Linked DNA regions of Homo sapiens: region 1 is linked to region 2. Evidence: fine-mapped expression QTL. A gene starts in region 2. The other region holds a variant in brackets. All regions are shown on one strand. Distances are between the middles of the regions.

Region 1 (8,341 bases), 55 kb before region 2:
ATACTATTTGATTGATATAGGTTGCTGCTCCTGCTCCATGGGAAATGGTGAATTACACTGCCCATCAATAGAGCCAATAGCAAACACAAGCACCAGTGAGCCTGTGATTCCTTCGTTTGAGAAAAGTAAGTGCCTCTGGACTATGAGGATGGGATTAAGGGACAGAAGATTCCTTATTCTTTTTTTTTTTTTTCTTTTTTTTGAGACGGAGTCTTGCTCTGTCACCCAGGCTGGAGTGCAGTGGCGCTATCTTGGCTCACTGCAAGCTGTGCCTCCCAGGTTCACGCCATTCTCCTGCCTCAGCCTCCTGAGTAGCTGGGACTACAGGCGCCCACCACCATGCCCAGCTAATTTTTTGTATTTTTAGTAGAGACGGAGTTTCACTGTGTTAGCCAGGATGGTCTCGATCTCCTGACCTCGTGATCTGCCTGCCTCGGCCTCCCAAAGTGCTGGGATTACAGGCGTGAGCTACCACACCCGGCCAGAAGATTCCTTATTCTTATCCCTCAAAAGAACTCTACATAGAATATCTATAGAAGTTACAAACATCAAGAATATAGATCCTCAATTAAGAGCAAAGAAGTGCTAATAGGGAATAATTGTGCATAGACAGAATACTCACTTTAAAAAATAAAGTTCTCACAAAGTGATAATAGGTAGTGTCATACACACATTTTCCAATAAATTTAACCCAAGTGACAAATCCAGGAAGTTTGCCCTAAAGGGCATTTTGGTGGGAGGTGGAGAGAGGGAAGCTTTTTTCTTGTTTTAGAAACAGACTTTTCCCCCATTCTCATCCCCTAGGACCAGGACTAATTAATTAGTTCTTAATTATATTTTGAATCTTTATGCTTTAAATATGGCCATTCTTATAAAATAAGGAACAAACACCTTTAAAAGTAATAACCTCTTGGCCAGACAAGGTGGCTCACGCCTGTAATCCCAGCACTTTGGGAGGCCGAGGCGGGTGGATCACAAGGTCAGGAGTTCGAGACCAGCCTGGCCAACATGGTGAAACCCCGTCTCTACTGAAAATACAAAAATTAGTTGGGTGTGGTGGTAATCCCACCCAACTGTAATCCCAGCTACTTGGGAGGCTGAGGCAGGAGAATTGCTTGAACACAGGAGGCGGAGGTTGCAGTGAGCCAAGATCACGCCACTGCACTGCAACCTAGGTGACAGAGCAAGACTCCATCTAGGGGGAAAAAAAAAGTAATAACCTTTTGACTAAGAGGCTGAATTACATTTGTGGCCTAAATTTCAAATTATTCAAAACAACCGAACATACTTATGTGGAATTGCAGTGCATTTTTCGTTGATTATACTTATTTATAATCAAACTAAAAAGGGAAACCCCCAAAAATGCTCTTTTTGATAAGGCCTATGTCAACTGTATTATTGCTAAAGGCATTATGTTTTTATATAAGAAATGTAAGGATTATAGAAAACAATGTATGCAAATCACTTAGCACAGTATGTGGTATACATAGTAAATGGTCATTAAAATATGTAGTAGCAGTAGTAATTATTGTTATTCAGATGGGATTTATATTTGGCTATCTGCTGGCAAGGAATGAATCTTAAATAATAATAGAATTCACATTTCCATAAAAAGTAGTGAAAACATATCAGATATGAAACATTCATTGACTTTTTTTTCTTTTACAAGAAACCCTTTCTGGCAGTTACACTGTCTTTGTTTTATCTGTCTGCTTTTTTTCTAAAATCGTTTCTTTACATCAGAATTCCCAAGGTTTTCCTCCTTATTGTTATCTCCCTACACAATATACCTAGTAGTAAAATCCATTAACAAATTCAACATGTAATCTGATTTGGCAAATTTCTTTTTCCCTCCCCAAATCTCCTTAGGCTTTGCTTATCTGTCATTTTCTTCATTAATAATGTTGATTCTCGCCTGAGCGTGGTGGCTCACTCCTGTAATCCCACCACTTTGGGAGGCAAAGGCAAGAGGATCGTGCTTGAGCCCAGGAGTTCAAGACCAGCCTGGGCAACATAGCCAGACCCTATCTCTACAAAGAATCAAAAAAATTAGCTGAATGCAGTGGCTCATGCCTGTAATCCCAGCTACCCAGGAGGCTGGGGTGGGAGGATCGCTTGAGCCCAGGAGGTTGCAGCTGCAATAGGCCATGATCATGTCTGAGCAACAGAGCAAGACCCTGTCTCAAAAATAAACAAACAAAAAGTTGATCATTGAAAATTCTCTTAAATTGTAGGGGCTTGGATTTTCTGATCATATTTTATAAAAATTATATAGAATGAGAGCCATTATATAGGGACTTCATCTAATCATACAATTTAGTGCCATCCCTAAGCCTAAAATAAAGCCTGAAGGAAATTAAACCATGGGCAAATTAGAATTTTTAGAGTTGACAATATAATTTATTCTCTACCCCTTGGCATAGTACAAAGGCAAAAATAAGTATCACATTTAGATTGTTGAATGGCAACAATGTATGAAAAAGCAAATGAAAGAAGATTTATTTTTATCCATTTTTGTAATATCTGTATAAAAAATTTTTTTTTTTTTGAGATGGAGTCTCGCTCTGTCATCCAGGCTAGAGTGCAGTGGCGCAGTCTTGGCTCACTGCAACCTCTGCCTCCCGGGTTCAAGCAATTCTCCTGCCTCAGGCTCCCAAGTAGCTGGGATTACAGGCACCTGCCACCACACCCAGCTAATTTTTTTTTGTATTTTTAGTAGAGACGGGGTTTCACCATGTTGGCCAGGCTGGTGTCAAACTCCTGATCTCAAGTGATCCTCCCACCTCGGCCTCCCAAAGTTCTGGGATTACAGGCGTCAGCTGCCGTGCCTGGCTTGTACACAATATTTTAAAACCAGATTTATTATATATAGGTATACTTCCAGGATTTTTCCACACATATATACAAATAATTTTTATTCAAATAGGATCATACTACAGAGACAGTTTGGCAACCTACTTTCTTTATACTTAGCAACATTATGAACCTTCCCCCATGCCATCAGCAATTGTGCTAGACCATGTTTAATGGGTATACATGGCCTTTTCTAAAATGTGGTTTTAGGAAATACAAATTTTTTCTTTTAGCTTGAGGGCAAGAGCTATAGAATTGTGGTTTTTAATCACTGACTTGTATAAGACTATATGTTGGACTAGACATCTATTTTGTAAAAAAAATGTTTTTCTTTGCTTTTGCTCCCATATATAGAATGGAGCTAAGGTAGAAAAACAAAGGCTTCCTGTGAAAAGTCCCTCACCTCTATTTTTGGCCAGAAAAGAGTCATGCCTGTGACTTGTGTTTGTATCCATATGTGAACAAAACATGGCATATAATACTTTTATGGTTCCTCAAAGGTGTTTCCTAAGGCAAAGTTTTTTTCAACTTTTACTTTAGATTCAGTGGGTACGTGTGCAGTTTTGCTACCTGGGTATATTATGTGATGCTGAGGTTTGGGGTACAAACAAATGATCCCATCACCCAGGTACTAAGCATAGTACCCAGTAGTTTTTTAGCCCT[T/C]GCCCTCTCCCTCCTTTCCACCTCTCGTAGTCCCCAGTTTCCATCATTACCATCTTTATGTCCATGAGTATCTGATGTTTAGTTCCCACTTATAAGTGAGCACATGCAGCACTTGGTTTTCTGTTTCTGTGTTAATTCACTTAGGATTATGGCCTCCAGATGCATCCGTGTTGCTGCAAAGGACATTATTTCATTCTTTTTTTTTTTTTTTCAAGACAGGATCTGGTTCTGCCACCCAGGCTGGAGTGCACAGCTCACTGCAACTGTTGCCTTCTAGGCTCAAGCCATCATCCCACCTCAGCCTACCAAGTAGCCAGGACTACGGACGTGTGCAACCACGCCTGGCTAATTTTTGTTTTGTTTTGTTTTTGAGATGGAGTCTCGCTCTGTCGTCCAGGCTGGAGTGCAGTGGCACGATCTTGGCTCACTGCAACCTCCGCCTCCCAGGTTCAAGCAATTCTCCTGTCTCAGCCTCCCGAGTAGCTGGGACTACAGGCACCTGCCACCATGCCCGGCTAATTTTTATATTTTTAGTAGAGACGGGATTTCACCATATTGGTCAGGCTGGTGTCAAACTCCTGACCTCAGGTGATCTGCCCACCTCAGCCTCCCAAAGTGCTAGGATTACAGGCGTGAGCCACCGCATCCGGACTTGTTTAGTTTTTTAGAGACAGGGTTTCGCCATGTTGCCCAGGCTGGTCTCGAACTCCTGAGCTCAAGCGATCTGCCCGCCTTGTCCTCCCAAAGTTCTGGGACTACAGGCATGAGCCACTGTGCCTGGCCTATTTCATTCTTTTTATGGCTACATAGTATTCCATGGTATATATGTAGCACATTTTCTTTATCCAGTCCACCATCGATGGGCACCTAGTTTGATTCCATGCTTTGCTGTTGTGAGTAGTGCTGTGATGAACATGCAAGTGCATGAGTCTTTTGGTAGAACCATTTTTTTTCTTTTGGATATGTACCCAGTAATGGGATTGCTGGGTCATATGGTAGTCCTGTTCTAAGTTCTTTGAGAAATCTCCAGGCTGCTTTCCACAGTGACTGAACTAATTTACATTCCCACCAATGGTATAAAGCATTCCCTTTTCTCTACAGCCTCACCAGCATCTGTTGTTTATTGATTTTTTAATAATAGCCCTTCTGACTGATGCAAGACGGTATCTCATTGTGGTTTTGATTTCTCTGATGATTAGTGATGTGCAGCATTTTTTCATGTTTGTTGGCCGCTTGTATGTCTTCTTTGAGAAGTGTCTGTTCATGTCTTTTGTGCATTTTTTAATGGAGTTATTTGTGTTTTGTTTGTTCAATTGTTTAAGTTCCTTATAGATTCTGGATATTAGGCCTTGTTAGATGCATAGTGTGCGAATATTTTCTCCCATTCTGTAGGTTGTCTGTCTACTCTGTTCATAGTTTCTTCTGCTATGCAGAAGCTCTTTAGTTTAATTAGGTCCCACTTGTCAATTTTTGGTTTTGTTTTTGTTTTTACCTTAAAACTTCCCAGTAGGCCGGGCGCGGTGGCTCACGCCTGTAATCCCAGCACTTTGGGAGGCCGAGGCGGGTGGATCATGAGGTCAGGAGATCGAGACCATCCTGGCTAACAAGGTGAAACCCCGTCTCTACTAAAAATACAAAAAATTAGCCGGGCGCAGTGGCGGGTGCCTGTAGTCCCAGCTACTCGGGAGGCTGAGGCAGGAGAATGGCGTGAACCCGGGAAGCGGAGCTTGCAGTGAGCCGAGATTGCGCCACTGCAGTCCGCAGTCCGGCCTGGGCGACAGAGCGAGACTCCGTCTCAAAAAAAAAAAAAAAAAACAAAAAACAAAAAACAAAAAACTTCCCAGTATAGTGTTTTTGTTACAATTGCTTTTGAGGACTGAGTCATAAATTCTTCCCAAAGGTCGATGTCCAGAATGGTGTTTCCTAGGTTTTCTTCTAGGATTCTTATAGTTTGAGGCATTACTTTTTTTTGAGACACAGTCTTGCTCTGTTGCCCATGCTGGAGTGCCATGGCACGATGTTGGCTCACTGTAACCTCTGCTCCCAGGTTCAAGCAATTCCCTTGCCTCAGCCTCCCAAATAGCTGGGATTACAGGCGGCCGCCACCATGCCTGGCTAATTTTTGTATTTTTAGTAGAGACAGGGTTTCACCATGTTGGCCAGGCTGGTCTTGAACTCCTGACCTCAAGTGATCCGCCCATCTCAGCCTCCCAAATTGCTAGGATTACAGGCGTGAGCCACCGTGCCTGGCTGAGACATTACATTTAAATCTTAGTCCATCTTGAGTTAATTTTTGTATATGGTGAAAGGCAGGGGTTAAGGCAAATTGTAAACTCTTTAATGAGAGGTTAAGAGATAATAATAATTTGTTTCACAGTTAGCCAAAATAGGGTATTCATGACTAATATGTAGATTTATCAGTGATAAAACTTGAGTTATTAATTCGGCCTTTAAAATTATATGTATATAATTTTAATATATACAATATAAAAATAAAAATATATATTATATACTTTTTCAACCTTTGTCCCCCTTCCTCCCTCCTCACCTCTAGTAGTCCCCAGTTCCTATTGTTGCCATCTTTATGTCCATGAGTATCTGATATTTAGCTCCCACTTATAAGTAAGCACATGCAGTACTTGGTTTTCTGTTCCTGTGTTAATTCACTTAGGATATATATAATATCTAATATATATTATATATTTAATATATAATTTATATATGTAAATTATAAATATAATTAAATATAAAATTTTTATTTATATATGCTTATATATTAATTTGTAATTTATATAATATGCACAAATTACATATATAATTATATATAAATTTATATGATTATAATATATACTGATATATAATATACATTTATAACATAATATATAATTGTTATATAATTATATATGTAATGTGTATATATTATTTATATAACTAATATATAAAATAAAAATTATATATAATTTATACTTAATTATATTAATTATATAAAAATTATATATAATTTTTTATTATTTTTTTTAATTTTTTTTGAGACAGAGTCTTACTCTGTGGTGCAGTCTTGGCTCACCACAACCTCTGCCTCCTGGGTTCAAGCGATTCTCCTGCCTCAGCCTTCCAAGTAGCTGGAATTACGGGTGCCCGCCACCACACCCAGTTAATTTGTGTATTTTTAGTAGGGATGAGGTTTCACCGTGTTGGCCAGGCTGGTCTTGAACTCCTAATCTCAAGTAATCTGCCTGCCTCGGCATCCCAAAGTGCTGGGATTACAGGCATGAGCCACCGCACCCAGGCAAATTATGTATAATTTTTAAAGACCAAATTATATAACTTATGTTAGATAATTATATATATAAAACATTGTTGAATAGTGTAAAAGGGAACTATTGTATTCTACTTATGTTTTTTGAGATAAAAACATTTCAGCTAGAATTCTTCTAAAGCAACATGAAGGAGCTTTCTTCCAATTTCATCTAAAATAATATACTGATTCTTAGCTGAATGTGCTTTTCTGTTGTTTCTCTTAGGAAGTCATTACAAATTTAAAATGCATTTAGATAAAAAGCTCTGATTACAAATTGTTGTGCTTACTCTTTTATAGACAATCATTGTGTGAGTCGCTGTAACTCCCAGAGCTGCATATTAGCCCAGGAAGAAGAACAGTATCTACAGAGTGGAGACCAGCAACTGACCCGACATGTGTTGCTGTGTTTACTTCTCATCATTGGCCTGTTCGCTGTAATGGTTTTTTCTGGTTTTGTTTTGGGGCCATTTCTTTAAATTTTTGGCAAAGGTTTTATTCAGGCATCCGGGAAAAACTTAGTTGCTGCTTTCCAGAAGTGTGGTAGCTAGGTCACCTGAATTTGGATCTTGAGCTAAATAATTGCAGGTGTGAGGGGAAGAGATGAATCATTCACATTACTCTGAGGCCTGAGTGCTCCAATAGCTTATTCTGCTTAGAATCATTTATTCATTCTATGCTCTGAACCTAGAATTTGGTAAAAGCAGCTATTTCTTTTTATTTTTTATTTTTTTTTTTTTTGAGACAGAGTCTAACTCTGTTGCCCAGGCTGGAGTGAAGTGGCATGATCTCAGCTCACTGCAACCTCTGCCTCCCGGGTTCAAGCGATTCTCCTGCTTCAGTCTCCTGAGTAGTTGGGATTACAGGCGCATGCCACCATGCCTGGCTAATTTTTGTATTTGTAGTAGAGACGGGGTTTCATCATGTTGGTCAGGCTGGTCTTGAACCCCTGACCTCAGGTGATCCACCCTCCTTAGCCTCCCAAAGTGCTGGAATTACAGGCGTGAGCCACTGCGCCAGGCCCAAAAGCAGCTATTTCAATAATGTACACAGGGCCACTTATTCCTAACATACCTGACTGACCAAAGTGGATAAATGCCTACATTAATGTCTCAGAACATGAAACCTCAGTGTCCACCAGAAAAAAAAAAAGAAAACCAAAAAACCTCTCAGAACATATTCCTCAGATAAACTTTAAAAAATAATTTTCAATTATCAAAATAACATAACTACTTCATATAATAGACCCTTACAAAATAGAGAAAATTAAAATACAGTATTTTATTTTTAGACTACATGCATTTCTTTGATTACTAAATGTCCTATTTGTGAATTATCAGTTCTTATTATATAATTCTTTGAGATGGTTCAAGTGTAACTCGTCCAGAGGTAGGAGATGGACCAGATAACCTATGAAGGAACGCTTTGCACACTGGGATGCTCGTGAGATAGTGTGATATCAGCCAATACCACTTTAAGTGCCATTTAAGAACAAAAATCAAAAAATAAGAAATGCTGCCAAGAATT
Region 2 (8,278 bases):
AATCTAAAAAGTATGAATTAGCAACAATAGCATAATTTGAAGCTCTCATTTTAAGTTCCACATTAAATGGGTTTTTAAAATAAGTTTTTAAAGGATCCTTTAATTAATGTGTATACTACCAAGTGACTGCATAAAATGTATATTGATAGTGTTAACATAGGGCCTAATAAACCTTTTTTGATGTGTCATAAAACTGTCATTCCTAAAGTCTGGGATGACTTTCCTATTCTACATCAAGTAGAACCTAAGCCAATTCAGAATCAGAATCCTTTTTGTCCATCAAATTCCAGCTAACTCCAAGCTGAATTAAATGTTCATTCTCTTCCGCTGCCACAGCATGCTACTGTTACTTAAATTTAGCATTTAAACCATCCTATTTTATAATGGGGTATAATGCATACACATCTTATTGCTATACTAGACTCTAAGCTCCTGGAACAGAGTCTTGACAGCTGACTTTAAATCTCTTGCCCTATCTAACATGCTTGCATATGGAAAGCATTCAAATATTTATTCAAACAATGGATAATTTTATTATTGTTATTTCAACGTCCTCCGAATCACTGAAATAAAAGATCACAGTTTATTTCTGACTCATTTATTTTTCAAATGTAAACTCCTCAATTTTAACTTCTACAGTTTCTTCCAAATTGCTATGTATAGAAATAACTTTATGATATTTTTAAAAGGCATATTGCTAACAAAACATTTATTTCACCTACCTTAAGACGTTCTCCCAGGTTATCATGAACTACAGCAGGAAAATAAACCACCTCTTGTACTTCATCATAGAGTCTATCTGAATTTTTTCCAAAAATAATCCTGTTATCGACTGTTGCTGGAGGTAATGCCACGAAAGTGTCACAGGAAAAAGGTTCCATTTTTTTTAACTAAAAATTATACAGATGTTTTAAAATAAAAAGAACACTTTTAAGTATATAAAAATAAAGAGTTTTACTCAATGACCAAAGGATATTATTGCCATATCTAATTAAGGATGTTCATTAAAGCTTTGATTTTTTTATTTTTATTTTTTGGAGACAAGGTCTAGCTCTTTCACCCAGGCTGGAGTGCAGTTGTATGATCAGGGCTTACTGCAGCCTGGAACTCCTGGGCTCAGGAGATCCTCCCCCTTCTGCCTCCCAAAGCCCTGGGATTACAGGCATGAGTGACCGTGCTTGGCTGTTCATTAAAGTTTTAAATTTTGTATACTACAGCCTAAAAATCAGTAAGAATATGACTTGGGACTCAATCTGGTACTACAACTCAGTAAGAAAATGGCAATGAGAACTACCTTCTTCTACTGTATAGTTCACATTTATTCTCTAAGACCTTTCTCTCCTAAAGTCTTCCCTGAATTTCGTTTCACCATTTCCATATTTGGGAATCCGTGTACCTAGCTCTATTGTTGTAAAGGCTAGATTCCATTACATTCGTGTATATATAAATCCCTTTACTGGACAATGAGATCCTTGAGGGCTGGGAGTATGTCTTACTAATCTTTATATTCTCTTTGCTGGAACTTGTCTTATGGAAAAAAATCTTACGTGCCCAGTACTTCCTCAAAGGAAGGAAGAAGGGGTCTTATTTGAGCTGGGAAATAATACACATTATAATTCTGATGAGACTGAAATTTTGAAACAGACTCATTGATTCAGACAAAAATATGTCAATATAATTCCAAATTGCTGATATTTCTAGGAGAAAGTTCACATATTTAATTTATAAATCGCAATTATATACTTTAATATCTAGATTACCTCTTCAGTTGTAACTTGGAAAATCTTAGATCTTCACTTATAATAGAACACCTAAAGGTCCTTATTTTGCTGCCAGAACAGACACATTGTTTTACAGAGTTTCCTTCTTTCCTTTAATAATGGCAAAACCTTAAAATGGCTTTACACAGGCAGATGCTAGCAACTTAAAAACAAAATTTAAATATAATAAATGTTTCCTTAAAAAGAAAAGAAAATGACTAAATAAAAACTTCAGACTGAAACTCTTAAGGGTTTTCCTCTTCTCCTCAGTGACGAGAAGTCTGATGTCTTGATGGCTTCTGTTATTTTCTTTCTGTATTTCAACTCTTATGTCCTGGATCTCCTTCTATTTGTGTTTTATAGTTAGTTCTATCACTATATAACTTTGGCAGACTATTTAATCTCTCTCTTACCTATGCCTTCTGCCTCATCAGAAAAATAAGACACTATTTGATGGGCTGTTATGAGAACTTAATAAGGCAACACGTAAAGTGTTTTGCACAGTGCATAGAACATAGTAGATACTCACATGAAAGCTGTTATTGTTATTATTTGGTAGGAGAGAAAATTTCTCATAAAGGCTTATTCGTTTTTTGTTTTTTTTTTTTGATGGAGTTTAACTCTTGTTGCCCGGGCTGGAGTGCAATGGAGCAGTCTTGGCTCACTGCAACCTCCGCCTCCCGCGTTCAAGTGATTCTCCTGCCTCAACCTCCCGAGTAGCTGGGATTACAGGCGCGTGCCACCACACCCGGCTAATTTTTCGTGTTTTTAGTAGAGACGGGGTTTCACCATGTTGGCCAGGCTGGTCTTGAACTCCTGACCTCAGGTGATCCACCCACCTTGGCCTCCCAAAGTGCTGGGATTACAGGCGTGAGCTACCGCGCCCGGCCAAGGTTTATTCTTAACATTACCCTGATAGAGAACTTGGTTGGTGGATCACCTGCTGCAGTAGCAGCCACGTCCACTCAAAAACCTGGAGTCCCAAGGGCCATCAAGCTGCAATAGTAACCTGAGCTGCCTAACTGGGGTCGTAGGGAAAGCTAAGGAAACTTGCCCCCTGGTTAGAATTGCACCTAGCCCACTGAGGAGGTGAAGCCTTGAGAGATTTTACCAACTCCTAACGCGTATTCGTCATTCAATAAGTATTTATTGAACGTCTTTCGGCGCCAGTACCGTACAGCTGGGTACAAAATAGACAGGGCCTCCGTTCTTGCAGAGCTGTCTGTCATTCTATTTCACGCGCTCTTAGTTCAGCCGGCGCTTTCAGAAACATCATATTGTTGGATTCTCGCAAGCATACTACGGTTAGGGCCGGAATTATTATCTTCATAACATAGATGAGAAAAACAGTGCAGAAAAGCTTTTGCAGCTCGAGTCAGAGTCCACAGAAAGTAATGGGCTCGAGCTTCAAGCACCTTTGGTCGAAGGGCCGCCGCGGTCCACCCCGCACCCCGGCCCTGGGCGCTCAAACCGCAGCCGGTGCAGCTGGGCTCCGGAGCCCCTCGGTCAAGCAGTGCCGCGCCACAGTTGGGTCTTCCGGGTTTCTGTCTCAACTATGCACGCCCCTCCCCCGTGCGCGCCCCTCACCTGGCCTCCCAGCTACCCGAAGTGACAGGTGGACGGAGGGAGGAGTGGCCAGTGGAGGCATCAGTTGCCGGAAGCTGTCACCTTTGATCTCGGAAGTTCCCCCTTGCTGCTGGAAACGCAGTTCCGGTTAGGCGGCTGAGTTTGTTTACGTTGCTAACAGATCTAGCCCCTGCTTTCCCTAGTTCCAGTTCCAAGATGGGGAAATCCTTCGCCAACTTCATGTGCAAGAAAGACTTTCATCCTGCCTCCAAATCCAATATCAAAAAAGTGAGTAAACAGACCCGGGGAGGGATTAGGCCCACAGGGACCGCCTTCCCAGAGGCTGCTGGAAGTGAAAGTGATGGTGTCTCTGAGATCCCTAGGACAGCCTCCGCTTCTCTAGGCCTAAAGCCCTGGTGGTCTCGCCTTTCTCTGCTGAGCAGCTCGCTGACGCAGCGGGTCCTCAGCGTTTATTCTGCAACAGCGAGGAGACCGGTGGCCTAGAGAATCTTTGTCGGCCAGAATGCAAATCCATAATATGCGAAGACTAATGTCAAAATTCCTCAGTACTTCCTTCAGCTGATTCTGGTTTTTTGTCTTTTCGGATCCCAGGGATCACGGCTTCTGAACTCTACTTTTCTGTACAAAGAAGCCTCCCCGTTTACTTAAGATAGATCTTTAAAAAAATTACCTAATAATCTAGTGTCTTTTTGATGACTAAACTCGTTGAAGTTTAGTGTTTTACATAATTACAGGTCTACCAGTTGTAATACTTTGGTGAATATCATAGTAATGAAAAGCAAAAGAGTGAAGTAGAAAGAATCAGCTTTGGAGTCAAACCTGGATTCTAGTTATTCGAGCAGTCACTTTTAGCCTTAAGACCTTGCACAAAATATTTGTAATATCTGACCCTCAGTCTTCTAATCTGTAAATTAAGGATGATTGACTTAATTGTGAGGATTAAGTGAAATAGTGAAGATAAAGGATTTGAAACAACGTAGGCATCTATCACTGTGTCCACTACAGAGAGGAGGTGCTCAATAAAATGTTGATTGCCCCTACATAGAAACTTGTGAAAATAACTAAGCTTTTATTTGTTTTTAGAACGAGTTGAGGTGATGAGATACTGCTATATACTCTCACTTCTAGACCAGTGATTCTCAACTTTTTTTTCACTGTTACCTTCCTAAGGAGTCTTATTAAACATTTTTTCTTAATAACTCCCCCATGAAATTTTAATAACACAGATACACCTTGAAAGCTCTTTGGTAATCATCCAGCCCCATCTCCTCATTTTATAAATGAGGAAACAAATTTGCCAAGAGTTACACAGCTAGTTAAATGTTGTACCAGAACTAGGATCTGGAACACCTGATTAACCCAGTGATTTTTTTTCCACTGCACCAGTTTGTGTTTGTGTGGTTGCAACTGTGGGAGGGAGAGGTTTCTTGTATTTGGTTGGCTCAATAACTTTTGACACCAAACACAGACATTTCCTTTCTCTGCATACTTAGGGGGTCAGCTGTTACTATTTTTACAAGAATGAAGAGATTAGATGGAATTCAGGTGCTTGCTTATTTGCTGTTTATATTTAGAGACAAATATACCTGAGAAATCATAATTTTTTACTGGAACTTTTGACATTTCGCTTTATAAATTTCAATGTATCAGCTTTCTTACAAGAAAAAAGAAATCCACAGAGAATAACTTTTGCAAGTCCGCTATGAGAAATTCAGTAAAGCAGTTATAGGCTTAGAACCTACATTCTTCTCATCTGTGTAAAGTGTTATGTAAAATGTACCAAATATTGTTGGCCTCTTTGATCTGTTTTATACTTTTCCCAGGATAGAGGAGAAGAATGAAATGTTTTTGATTAGCAGACCTTTCTAGATAGTTAACACTTTATGGGGAGAGGGGGTGACCTCTAGCATTCTTTATTAACTAAGGATAAAGGAACTATATTAAATGAAGATAAATAGAAAAATTTATTAGGGTAGGAGGAAACTTTTGGAGGTGATGGATATGTTTATAGTGTAGATTGTGATGATGGTTTCACAGGGATATACTTGTCACCAAACTCAGGTTGTATACATTAAATATGTACAGCTTTTTATATGTCATACTCCAGTAAAGTTTTTTTTTTTTTTTAATAGAAGTGGAAGAAACAAAGGAGTTTGATCAAAGAGTGCAAAAGAGTTCCACCATGAAAATTTTAAGGGCCAGGTATGGTGGCTCATACCTATAATTCCAGCACTTTGAGAGGCCAGGAATTCAAGACCAGCATAGGCAACAAAGTGAGACCCCATCTATATTTAAAAAGAAAGAAAGAAAATTCTAATTGTAAAATTAGGCATGTTGGGTTTATTAAAGTCCAGTAGGTTCTTTTTTTCCTTGTTTGTTTTCAGTTTCCCAAGCTTATAAAAAGTCCAGTAGGTTTTAAGGTCTCATTTGTTCACCAAAAATAAGAGTGAATGCTGTATATCTGCTGGTCACTCTGTTGTGTATTGTTATGCGCTGCCTCAATCATTTATGTCACAGGATACACTGTTTTGTTCAGCTGTTCTTTTTTTTTCTTGATTTTGTTAATGAAGGAAGCAGTTAATTTACATTGTGGTCCAAGCTCTTTAGTCTTCTTGTGGACTGGCAAACAGTTCATAAACTGGCTATTGACAATTGCATCACTGTAAACTCCCTTTTTTGTGAAACTCTCTGTTCCCTTAGCTGTAATAACTACTCTCTTCTAGTTTTCCAGCTCTCTTATTAGACTGTTCTTTTCCCATCAACTTCACTGGATCTTTATTCTTAGCCTGCTCCTAAAATATAAGTGTTCCCCAGAGTTTCATCCTTGGCCCACTTCTTGCTTACTTAGTATGCTTGCCCCAAGCAATCACATCCAACTAGCCTGTTTTAACTAGCCTGTTTACTCATGACTCAAATCTGCAGTCCCAGTTTTCTCTTCTTAACTTTGATGTGGCTCAAGACAGCTATCTACTAGACATTTGCATCTTGATGTCCTATAGGCACCTCAAACTCAACATATCTGATATAAAAGTTTTTTACCCCAAATCAGCCCTTTTTATACTTGCTATCTCATATGGGTAGAAATATAGATAGTAAAACAGTCCCTCATCCTGTTGCCCAAACCAGAAGCTCAGGATTCATCCCTTTTCCCATCACTCCTTTATCTAGTCAATCACTGAATGCTATTGGTCTTACCTTCCAAATATCTCTTGAATCCATCTTTCCTTTCTGTCACTGCTGCTTGTGTCTTAATTCAGACCCTCATCATCTTTCACCTATATTGTTGCATTTCCTAAGTGGTTCTACTGCCTCCAATCTTGAGTCCTCTCAAATCCATTCACTACACAGCCATCAGAATAGTCATTTTTCATTTTAACAGCTCTGCTGAGATAAATTTACATATCATACAAACACCCATGTAAAATGTACAATTTAGTGGTTTTTAAAATGTATTCATGGAGTTAAGTAATCATTACCACAAACAATTTTAGAACTTTGTCATCACCCCAAAAAGAAACCCCCGCTGGGCATGGTGGCTCACACCTGTAATCTCTGCACTTTGGGTGGCTGAGGTGGGTGGATCACCCGAGGTCAGGAATTCAAGACAGCCTGGCCAACATGGTGAAACCCTGTCTCTACTAAAAGTACAAAAATTAGCTGGGTGTGGTGGCGGGCGCTTGTAATCCCAGCTACTTGGGAGGCTGAGGTGGGAGAATCGCATGAACCCGGGAGGCGGAGATTGCAGTGAGCCAAGATTGCGCCACTGCACTCCAGCCTGGGTGACAGTGAGACACTGACTCAAAAAAAAAGAAACCTGCATACCTGTTAGTCACTCCCATTTTTCCTTAACTCTTCTCCCTCTCTCCAGCCCTAGGCAAGCACTAATCTACTTTCTGTTAGTGGATTTGCCTATTCTGGAAATTCATTTAAATGGAATCATGCAATCTGTGGTCTTTTTTGACTGGCTACTCTCACCATAATGTTTTTGAAGTTTATCCATGGTATGGCATGTATTGGTACTTTTTCCTTTTTATTGCTAAATAATATTCCATTGTATGAATGTAAGTTATTTCGATAGAATTGTCTTTTTTTAAGCACAAATCTGATCTCTTTCAGCCTGTTATTAAAATATTACAGGATTGAGTCCAAGTAATCTCACTCCATCGTTTTTCTCCTTCTCCCCTCCTACTATTCTCCCACCTCAGATTTATTTATTTATTTATTTTTTGAGATGGAGGCTCACTCTGTTGCCCAGGCTAGAGTGCAGTGATGCAGTCTCAGCTCACTGAAGCCTCTACCTCCCAGGCTTAGGTGATTCTCCTGCCTCAGCTTTCCGAGTAGCTGGGATTACAGATACACACCACCACGCCTGGCTAATTTTTGTATTTTTAGTAGAGATGGAGTTTCACCATGTTGGCCAGGCTGGTCTCAGACTCCTGACTTAAGGTGATCTGCCCACCTCAGCCCAACCTAAGATTTTATATGTTAGTAATATTGAACTACTTACGTTCTATTTTATATCTCTGGGCCTTTGCCTGAGTCATTCTCTCTGCCAGTTATATCTTGCCCTGTTTTTTTCCTTGGCCATGCCTTGATCCTTTTCAAAACCCTGTCAAATGTGTGTGAAATTACCTGTGTATTGAGTTCTTGCAGCAAAATTTTTAATAGCAAAATACTGGAAATTTCTTAAGTGCCCATTTATACAGTATGAGATAAATAAATTATAAATTATGGTATAGTCCCACAATATGCAACTTTACCACCCAAAAGAAGAAAGTGTTTGTTTACTGATCCATATTAGTCTTGTATTAGTATTAGTCTGTTCTCATGCTGCTATGAAGAAATACCTGAGACTGGGTAATTTATAAGGAAAGAATTTTAATTGACTTGCAGTTCTGCAGGGCTGGGGAGGCCTCAGGAAACTTAAAATC

The links. PIP is the estimated chance that this variant, and not a neighbour inherited with it, causes the effect.
Region 1: its variant is fine-mapped to the expression of SCRN3 in tibial artery (GTEx, PIP 0.92).

What each region holds. Positions count from the first base shown.
Region 1 is chr2:174,445,521-174,453,861 of GRCh38, reverse strand. It overlaps GPR155 (G protein-coupled receptor 155), which reads left to right. Exons shown (of 16, transcript NM_152529.7): 11 at 21-125; 12 at 7,115-7,251. Among named protein-coding and RNA genes, the nearest start is that of GPR155, 37 kb to the left of the region's middle. The variant T/C (reference allele first, on the strand shown) is at 3,517.
Region 2 is chr2:174,390,887-174,399,164 of GRCh38, reverse strand. SCRN3 (secernin 3) reads right to left here and starts at 3,435. Exons shown (of 8, transcript NM_024583.5): 1 at 3,348-3,435; 2 at 723-890. The coding sequence starts at 881. It overlaps CIRSR (corepressor of RBPJ and splicing regulator), which reads left to right and starts at 3,453. Exons shown (of 10, transcript NM_004882.4): 1 at 3,453-3,614. The coding sequence starts at 3,543. RefSeq lists enhancers at 2,507-3,007, 3,505-3,554 and a silencer at 6,941-7,105.